Linked DNA regions of Homo sapiens. The protein of the gene in region 2 purifies or fractionates together with the protein of the main gene of each other region. This does not show direct contact. Each region holds a gene or a part of one and is shown on either strand. Other genes may lie near its edges.

Region 1 (5,015 bases), on a different chromosome or scaffold from region 2:
TCATCTATCTCTCTAATCTATTAATGCACCTATGTATGTATCTATGTATCTATCTATCTAATCTATTTATCCATGTATGTATGTATGTATCTACCTATCTAATCTATGTATGTATGTATATATGTATCTAATTTATGTACGTACATATGTATGTATCTATTCTATCTATGTATCTATCTATCTGATTGATCTATCTCTCTATCATCACCATTATCTATCTATATGTATGTGTGTATCTATCTATCCTATCTATCTATCTCTCATCTATCTATGTATCTCTCTAATCTATCATCTATTTAATCTATGCATCTATATATCTATCTATCTAATCTATTTATCCATGTATGTATGTATCTATCTAATCTATGTATGTATATATCTATCTAATTTACGTATGTATCTTTTCTATCTATCTCTATTATCTATATATCTATCTGTCTATCATCACCATTATCTATCTATATCTATGTATGTATTGTCTATTCTATCTCTCATCTATCTATATATCTCTTTAATCTATCATCTATCTATCTAATCTATGCATGTATCTATGTATCTATCTATCTAATCTATTTATCCATGTATGTATGTATGTATGTACCTATCTAATTTATGTATGTATGTATATATCTATCTATTCTATGTATCTATTTATCGATTCTATCTATCTGTCTGTCTGTCTGTCTATCTATCTATCTATCTATCTATCTATCTAATTTGTCACCCATCTATCTTTAAGACAGTGATAGATGAGCAAGTGATTTTGCTACCTGGAGACATTGAGTAATATCTGGAGACATTTCTGATTGTCACAACTGTGGGTGCTCCTGGCACCTTGTGGCTGGAGCCCAGGGACGCTGCTCTACACCCTACAATCCCCAGGATGGCCCCACCACAGGGAATTCCCCCGCCCCAAATGTCACTAGTGCTCCAGCAGACAGCCTGTGCCTTTTGTGTCTCATGAATGGTTCTATCCCAAGATCTGTCCTTGCCCCATCTTCCTGCATGCCCTCTCCATCAGGGGTCCCCCTGCTTACAGGGTCCCCCGTAAACAATGTCCAGGCCCCCTCCCAGCCTGACTGTGCCCAGCCCGAGGGGTTAGCATGCTCAGCCCACCCCCAGCTCATGAACTCCTGGGGAGCCTGGACAGCACATTGCCATTCCACCAACTCATCATCCGAAACCAACACAGCCTGGCACCTGCCACCTGCTTCTGTCTGTGCCACTCCCTGCCCAGCCATGGAGAGTCTCATAGGACTCCTCCCTCCCATGGAGACCTTCTTGGCTAGAAAATCACACATCCTGCTTCCACAAAGTCCCTCTGCTCAGGGCACCAGCACCTTTCCCCTGGAGCAGGGCACTCTGCACAAAAGCATCAACGCAGTCCTCAAGGTCCCAGCCCGGCTCAGCGGCATGAAAACACGCTCAACATCACGAATGATCAGGGAAATGCAAATCAAAAGCAGAATGTGACATCACCTCACTCCTGCAAGAATGGCCACAATCAAAACATCAAGAAATAGCAAATGCTAGTGTGGATGTGGCGAACAGGGAACACGTCTGCACTGCTGGTGGGAACGTAAACTAGTACAGCCACTATAGAAGACAGTGTGGAGAGTCCTTAAAGAGCTAAATGTAGAACTACCATTTGATCCAGCAATCCCACTGCTGGGTATCTAGGTAGAGGAAAGTAACTCATTATATGAAAAAGATACTTAGAGGAAAGTAACTCATTATACGAAAAAGATACTTGCACAGGCATGTTTATAGCAGCACAATTTGCAATTGCAAAAATGTGGAACCAACCCAAATGCCCATCAATCAACAGGTGGATAAAGAAACTGTGGTGTATTTATATATATAAATGCCGGCACTGACACACACACAAACACACACACATATATGTCATATATATGTGTGCCATATATATACACACACGTATATATACACATATATGTATATGATGTGTATATATACACATATACGTATATGATGTGTGTATATGCACATATATGTATATATGTATATGATGTGTATATATACACATATATGTATATATGTATATGTGTATATATACACATATATGTATAGATGTATATGTGTATATATACACATATATGTATAGATGTATATGATGTGTATATATATATACATATACTTATGATGGAATACTACTCAGTCATGAAAAAGAATAGCATTTGGAGTGGCCTGGATGAGATTGGAGACTATTATTCTAAGTGAAGTAACTCAGGAATGGAAACCCAAACATCGTATGTTCTCACTCATAAGTGAGAGCTAAGCTATGAGGATGCAAAGGCATAAGAATGCCACAACGGCCGGATGCGGTGGCTCACACCTGTCATCCCAGCACTTTGGGAGGTCGAGGTGGGCAGATCACAAGGTCAGGAGTTTGAGACCAGCCTGGCCAATATGGTGAAACCCCGTCTCTACTAAAAATACAAAAATTAACCGGGTGTGGTGGCACATGCGTGTAATCCCAGTTACTCAGGAGGAGGCTGAGGCAGGAGAATCGCTTGAATCCGGGAGAAGGAGGTTGCAGTGAGCCGAGATCGCGCCACTGCTCTCCAGCCTGGGCAACAGAGTGAAACTCTGTCTCAAAAAAAAAAAAAAAAAAAAAAACGAAAGAAAGAAAAAAGAAAAAAAAAGGAATGACACAAAGGACTTTGGGAACTCCAGGGCAAAGATTGGGGAGAGGATGAGGGATAAAAGGCCACAAACCGGGTTCAGTGTATACTGCTTGGGTGACGGATACCCTGAAATCTCACACATCACCACTAAAGAACTTCCTCGTGTAACCAAATGGCACGTGTTTCCCCAAAACCTATGGAAGTAAAAAGTGTAAAACAAACCAACAAAAACACACATCAGCTTCTGAAAAAATCTTCTGAGGAGTGTGCTTTCTTGAGGCAAATAAAAGAGATTGCCAAAAATAATATATATATATTCATATATTACATATTTACATATTTATTATTTAAACATATATTTATGTATTTTTTATTATTTATATATTATATATTTATATATTTATTATTTAAATATATTGTATATTTATATATTATTTATTCTTTATATCTTATATACTTATATATTTATTATTTAAATGTATTGTATATTTATATTTTATTTATTATTTATATATTATATACTTATATATTTATTATTTAAATATATTATATACTTATATATTTATTATTTAAATATATTATATATTTATATATTATTATTTACATATTTATTATTTACATATTTATTATTTAAATATATTTTATATTTATATATTATTTATATATTATATACTTATATATTCATTATTTAAATATATTATTCATATATTATTTATTATTTATATATTATATACTTATATATTTATTATTTAAATATACTATATATTCATATATTATTTATTATTTATATATTATATACTTATATTTATTTAAATATATTATGTATTTATATATTATTTATTATTTATATATTATATACTTATATATGTATTATTTAAATATATTATATATTCATATATTATTTATTATTTACATATTACATAGTTATATATTTATAACTTAAATATATTATATATTTATATATTATTTATATATTACATATTTACATATATTATATACTTATCTATTTATTATTTACATATATATTTGTATATTATTTATATATAATATATTTACATATATATTTATATATAATATATTTACATATATTATATATTTATATATATTTACATATATATTTATATACAATATATTTACATATATTATATATTTATATATATTTACATATATATTTATATACTTACTATTTATATATTATATATTATTTATATATAATTATTTATATAATTATATATGTAATACATATATATATACACACACACAGATAGGTGTATCTGTTGCTTTATCCTAAGTGAACACAGATACTGCATCACTAGGGAGCGACATTGTGAACCGCAGAACACTCCCTGCAGTCCCCTGAGCTCAGTCTGGTCCTTGGGGGTGATCCTGGGGGCACCCATCACGCCCACGCCCTTTCCGTACCTTAACAGGTGTAGGCAGGGTGTTGTGTGTCTCCCAGGGGCCGTGCAGAATCTCCTAACCCGAGAGAGGAAGAGCAGGGTTCCAGGTGGACACTGGGATCCCTGGACCCTGCCCCGCCCACCCCACTGCCTCTAGGGACAGAAGAGGGGCTGGGGGAGGGAGGTTGGGGACCATGCCCAGACACAGCCAATGAGGAGGTCCTGATGGAGAGGCAGGGCTGAAGGAGAGGGCGCAGGAGAGAGACTCAGACGAGAGGGGGCCATCTGCCCGGGGAAAGGGCCTCTCCAAGCGCAGGGCTGTACGTATGCACCACTGGCAACAGCTACCCTGCTGTTGTTAATCCTAAGCCATCGCTTCTTCCCTGGAACTTTAAGGGACAAACTCAGAACTGCAGTGTGGGTAGGGTTGGAGGGAGGGAGCGTCTCTGTGGTTCTCCAAGGGGACCTCACCTCTCCCACCCACCCCAAGGTTGGTCAGTCTGAATGGTGCAGCCAGGCGGGGACCTGGCAGAAGGCATCTGAAAAGCATGTGCTTTTACAAACACAGGGTTGCCCACCGTCCCGTACGTCCCATGCACGCCTCTCTCAGCCTCTGACCTAATTGTCCTCTTGTGGGGTGGGGGAGGCCAATATTTGGGAAAAGGGGCAGCATCCTGGTGCACGTAGGACGCTGGCACCTGTCTGGCAGTGCCTAAATGAAAGTACTGCTTTTCCAATGTGGGATAATTCCTTTTTTTTTTTTTTTTTTTTTGAGACAGAGTCTCACTCTGTCACCCAGGCTGGAGTGCAGTGGCGCGATCTTGGCTCACCGCAACCTCCGCCTCCTGGGTTCAAGTGATTCTGCTGCCTTAGCGTGCCGAGTAACTGGGATGACAGGTGCCCGCCGCCACACTCGGCTAATTTTGGTATTTTTAGTAGAGACGGGGTTTCACTATGTTGGCCAGGC
Region 2 (5,637 bases):
GAATGAATGGAGGCCAGAAAGCCAAGGATCATAAATGCTATACAGCAGGTACTCTTTTTTTCTTTTTGTGTTTTTTTTATTTTTTTATTTTTTGGAGACAGCTCTGTCACCTAAGACGGAGTGCAGTGGCGCAATCACAGCTCACCACAGCCTTGAACTCCTGGGCTCAAGTGATCCTCCCACCTTAGCCTCCCAAGTAGCTGGAACCACAGCACACACCACCACACCTAGCTAATGTCTTAATTTTTTTTGTAGAGACAGGGTCTTACTATGTTGCCCAGGCTGGCCTTGACCTCATGGGCTCAAGTGATCTTCCTACCTCAGCCTCCCAAGGTGTTGGGATTACAGGTGTGAACCACCATGCTCAGCCAAAGCAGGTACTCTTGATCAGGGTCCAGGGAAAAGCTACAGAAAATCTCTGAACTCCCTAAAAGCAAATGCAAAATCTGATACATAGGTGCATTTTTCTAGAGAGGGCTTTCATCTGGTACCCAGAAAGATCCATGACCCAAAAAAAGCTTAACAATGCCTCAGCAGGCCGGGCACAATGGCTCACCCCTATAATCCCAACACTTTGGGAGGCTGAGGCAGGTGGATCACTTGAGGTCAAGAGTTCGAGCCAGCCTGGCCAACATGGTAAAACCCCGTCACTACCAAAAAATACAAAAATTATCCAGGCATGGTGATGCGCACCTGTAGTCCCAGCTACTGGGGAGGCTGAGGTGGGAGAATCGCTTGAACCCAGGAGGTAGAGGTTGCAGTGAGCCAAGATTGTGCCACTGCACTCCAGCCTGGGTGACAAAGTGAGACTCTGTCTCAAAAAAAATAATGCCTCAGCAGATGAATCTCTGTTGGAGGAAGGGTTGGACTTGAAAACGTTTTAGGATCCTCACCCAACTCTGATTCTACAATTCCGTGAAAATGCCAGAGTCCCAGTTGAAGGGGGAAGGGGCAGAGGATTAAGACCAATAACACCTTGTGAGTCCAAAAACCACAGGAGCCTGGAACAGGTCAGAGCACGGTGGCTGCACTGCCTGCCCCTGCCCTGGGCTCAGCAGCAGGTGGGGGAAAAGAAAGCTGCAGATGGCTTCTGAGCAGGCCTTCCACCATCCTGCTCTTATCACCTCAGTCAAACATGGGGCGGCCACTGCTGAAAAGCTTTGACCCCTGAGTGGTGAGGGTGGGAGACTTCTAAAAGGTGCTGAGCAGTTGTGAGCCTCAAGCTCCAGCAACAATTCTCCTTAGCGCTGGCATGAACCTCAGAGTCACAGGATTCCCCTACAGTTCTGGTAGAGCGCCCCCCAGGGTGGCTGGATGGATATTTTCCAGCATCCTATTGTTCTGGGAGGCTAGGCGACCGGTAGAAAATCTGATTGCTTCAGAAAAAGAGAAGGAGGAAGGTGCTTGCTATTTTAACATGTAGCAACGTATAAACAAATGGTCTGATAAACATTCAGGTGCAAGATAGTATACTAAGCAATAGGGTGCACAGTGGGTGTTCAACAAATACTTATCTTAGTTGTTTATTAACTCAATATCACTCAGTCCTTCCATCTATCCTCCACTTACCACATACCCTGCCATCTTGTGTAGTATTCAACACACATACGTTCATGCACACACATGCATATATACCGCTCTTTCAACACAAGGCTATCCAGTTTAAGATGGCTGCATATTAATACAAGCTGTCAGATTAACAAAAAATCTAAAGGCCTCAGTGGTTACCTTCTCGTCGTCATCTGTGTGAATGCAGTTCTTGTCTGGGTTCAACTCAGTCACTCTAGCTTTGATCCATTCTACACCAGATGGAATCACACTTGCCGTGGGACGACCAGATGAGGACAATTGTTTGGCACCAGCACCCACCAGTGTCCAGATTGGCTGGTAGAAATGTCTCTGAGAAACAAAGTATTTGAAGATTTATTGCAATTTGACACTGATCAAAAGGGGTCATAGCTAACAGTATGGGCTAGATTCTTTCAATCACTCCCTCCTGACCTTTAGAGCATCGTATGGAAAAGTCTCCACAAAGTTAGCTCCGTCTATTAGGCGTCTCCTATTATGGTAAGCTCTGAAGGACAGTCACTCCACACAAGAATTCTTCCAAGATCATCAGAAAAGCTATAAACTATCTTTAGTGACCACTGCATTATGTATTGCTGAAAGTTGATTTGGTGTTTAATATGTACATGTTATATGCACGTGCATATCTACACACATATTATGGATACTTCATGTGAACAAATATTTTAAAAATTAAGCCCAGCAGCCTAGATATGGTTCCTCAGGAGCATGTGGAGACAGTGGTAAGTCTGGAAAGTTTACAGCCCCTTCCAGAGGTCCTCTAAACTTCATTAACTTCCAACTGTGTTTCCCAAGCCCAGTGAGGGCTGTGTTTCCTGAACAGCCCTTCTTCTACTTTCTCAGAGACTCAGAGATTTTACACCAAAGACAATAAGTACCAGATCCTACTCCACAATGCAATGCATACCCAAACTTTCACTATCTTCTGGAGTTTTCTTGCTTCAGATGGTCCTTTTTTTTTTTTTTTTTTTTTTTTAAGACAGAGTCTCGCCCAATCACCCCAATCACCCAGGCTGGAGTGCAGTGGCACGATCTCGGCTCACTGCAACCTCCACCTCCCAGGTTCAGGCGATTCTTCTGCCTCAGCCTCCTGAGTAGCTGGGACTACAGGCATGTGCCACCATGCCTGGCTAATTTTTGCATTTTTAGTAGAGATGGCATTTCACCATGTTGCCTAGGTTGGTCTTGAACTCCTGACCTCAGGTGATCTGCCTTCCTCAGCCTCTCAAAGTGCTGGGATTACAGCCCTGAGCCACTGTGCCCAGCAACAGTCCATTCTTGATCTAAGTTAGTTGTAAAAGTTCTGGACATAGGGGCAAAGGGCAGATTTGTTTAATGGCCTCTAAGAATTCCAATCCACTTAGAGTAGACTGGGGACCAAGAGCTCTCAATATTGCCAAAATGCCTCAAAGTAGCTGGCCAGCACTGCCAAAACCCACAGAGAGGTGAAGAGGACACCAGGAATGACTTTGCAATCTCCCTACAAGCAATAATGTGATCCAAGAGGGAGGAAGACAGAGGTCTCCATTTATGAGAGCTCATCAATGGCCAGTCTATCTTGAACAGTAAGAGGAGCAAAAATACAAGCTCAGATTTTATTTTTAGACTATGAACATCAGCTCCAGCTATCACTAAATCAGACTCAGCAGGGAAAGTACCAAGCCTGGGGCTCTGGCAGCTCCTTCCAGAAATTCCTGTCCTGTACTTCCTCACGGGGCAGGACAAACTTGATTCTGGCCGCCTGAATTGTGCCCAGGTCCCAGAAGAGCCAGTCTCCTTACAAAGAGAAGCCTGACTGGGAGACCCGCCCACGCATTAGCTAAAATACAACATATACCAGAAACAGTAGCCACCTGACACAGCTCTCAGACCACTGTCATTTAAAGTGAGGTTCCTGAATTGAACAGACGTCACTTTAAAAAGGAAAATGATAGAGACTGCCCCCTAGTTTCCTCTCAAATCATGGCCCTGGTTAACATCATTCCCTGCTGGGGACAAATCTTGAAAAGGAGTATGTCTTCCTTGTCCTGTCCTCCCCCTGAAACAGGCACCTGATCCATTTTGCTTTTTCCTCCCAAGGATACAGCTCCCAACCAGTACATGCCTAGTTCCACAGGAAACATTAGGCAAACCACCAAAAATCTTGAATATTTTTCTGAAGCTTTTGGACAATCTTAACATGTTTTTTGTGAGACAGCGCCTTACTCAGTCTTCCCTCCTAGTGTCAGCTACCTTTTCTCCCTTATAATCTGCCCTTGCATTTAAATTTCTAAGCCCACTGACAGCTTTCCAGAGGCCTTCCTGCTCCCCAACTCATCATCCCTTCTCCAGACAGGAACAGATAGGCAAGTGCAGTGGCCATTGATTTTCCTCTGGGCAGGAGGTTGGCACTGGGAGAGTGTCATGGGTTGAATTGTATCTCTCTCAAAGAAGGATGTTGACGTTCTAACCCCAGTACCTGGGAATGTAACCTTATTTGGAAATAGGGTCTTTGCAAATGTAATCAAATTAAGATGAGGTCATTCTTGAATAGAGTGTGCCATAAATCCAATGAATGGTGGCTTTATAAAAGGGTCATGTGAAGACACAGGGACACAGAGACACACAGAGAACATTCTGTGAAGATGGAGGCAGAGAAAGGAGTGGCACAGCTACAAGCCAGAGAGTGGCAAGGATTTCAGGGTAACCACCAGAAGCTGGGAGAGAGGCATGAGACAAAGCCACCTGCCCATCCCTCTCACCCAGGCTGCAGAGGGAGCATGGCCTTGCCCATAGCTTGGTTTCAGGCTTCTAGCCTCCAGAACTGTGAGGGAATAGATGTCTGTTGTTTTAAGCCACCCAATTTGCAGTAATTTGTTATGGCAGCCCTAAGAAACTAATACAGAGGAGAACACTAAAAGCCAAGAGATCTGTTCTCCCTCTCTCTTTCCCTCCACTTCCTCCCAGTCCTTCTGGATAGGCTGCTTTCTGTGCCCAGGAGAAGCCCTAACCTGAACATATGAAGACCCATTGCTTGATAGTCATATCCAACCCCAGAACACACACACACACACACTCACACACACACACACGTACACACACACCCAGGCCCTCAAAAGGGGAGGCTTACCTCACTGGGCTCAACAATGGCCACATTCTCTGCACCCACTTTCCTCTTCATGCGGGCAGCCATGGTGATTCCGCCACTGCCCCCACCCAGCACCAGCACCTCATAATGGTTCCTGGCCGCATGGCTGGCCCCGGTGTGCAGCTGAAGGGGGCCGACCTGCTGAGTGCCCAGCCTGAGCAGGCAGGCAAAGAGCTGGGCACGGGGCCCTGATACCACAGCCACCAGTGGCACCATCTTCAGGCAGGATCAGGCTGGAAGGGAAGAGACAGGGCTGTGAGTGCCAAGGTAGAAACCATCGTGGGACTGAAGCGTTTTCTTTCCAGGAGGAAGGGAGGCCGGCATCTGGCCCGCTCCAGCTGGTCCCCATCATCTCTCAAGACCACTTTCCCCACTGGCTGTGGTCCCAAGGTCTCCTGAGAGCACCCAATTGGTAGCTATCAGTTGACTACACTTACCATTTCTCCCCTTCCGCCTACGTTCAGGCTATCGAGGACTTTGTTTGAATCAGGTTCCCCAACTCTTTAAGTCCTTCCTAATAACCTGTCTGTACCCATCCTTGTCCATCCGTAAGATCTAGGGCACCATCTGGTTGTATCCAGCTGTTGGCCCATTCTCCACGGAGGCACACTCCCCAGTGCTTTCTGTGGATTTTCAGTCCATTAAAACTGATATACGAGTCCACAATTAGAGACCTACAACATTCCTTGCAGTAAAAGGCACCTGAGACCTTGTTGAAACAGAAACCGTCTAGCAAGAAACCCACCTTCTGCAACTCAGAGTACCCACCAGGGCAATCAAGGCCTCAGCCCCCATCCAGAGGCCTCCTGGCTCTGCTTGCCCAGGGAAATATAATGTAATCAAATCACTGGCTACCGACACACAAGTGAAGGCCCTCCACACCTCTAGCAATTTCAACCAAACGATTTTAGAAAGCCATAAAA

The links. Proteins that work in one complex are often made in the same cells at the same time.
Region 1: the proteins of SQOR (region 2) and P2RY8 purify together in Homo sapiens (co-immunoprecipitation; one large-scale study listed by IntAct). This does not show direct contact.

What each region holds. Positions count from the first base shown.
Region 1 is NC_000023.11:1,530,386-1,535,400, forward strand, and holds part of P2RY8 (S-geranylgeranyl-glutathione receptor P2RY8), read right to left. Parts: intron 1-5,015. UniProt on the Homo sapiens protein: G protein-coupled receptor for S-geranylgeranyl-glutathione (GGG), an endogenous metabolite present in lymphoid tissues.
Region 2 is NC_000015.10:45,658,217-45,663,853, reverse strand, and holds part of SQOR (sulfide:quinone oxidoreductase, mitochondrial), read right to left. Parts: intron 4,948-5,637; 5' UTR 4,931-4,947; coding exon 4,697-4,930; intron 1,900-4,696; coding exon 1,729-1,899; intron 1-1,728. UniProt on the Homo sapiens protein: Catalyzes the oxidation of hydrogen sulfide with the help of a quinone, such as ubiquinone-10, giving rise to thiosulfate and ultimately to sulfane (molecular sulfur) atoms.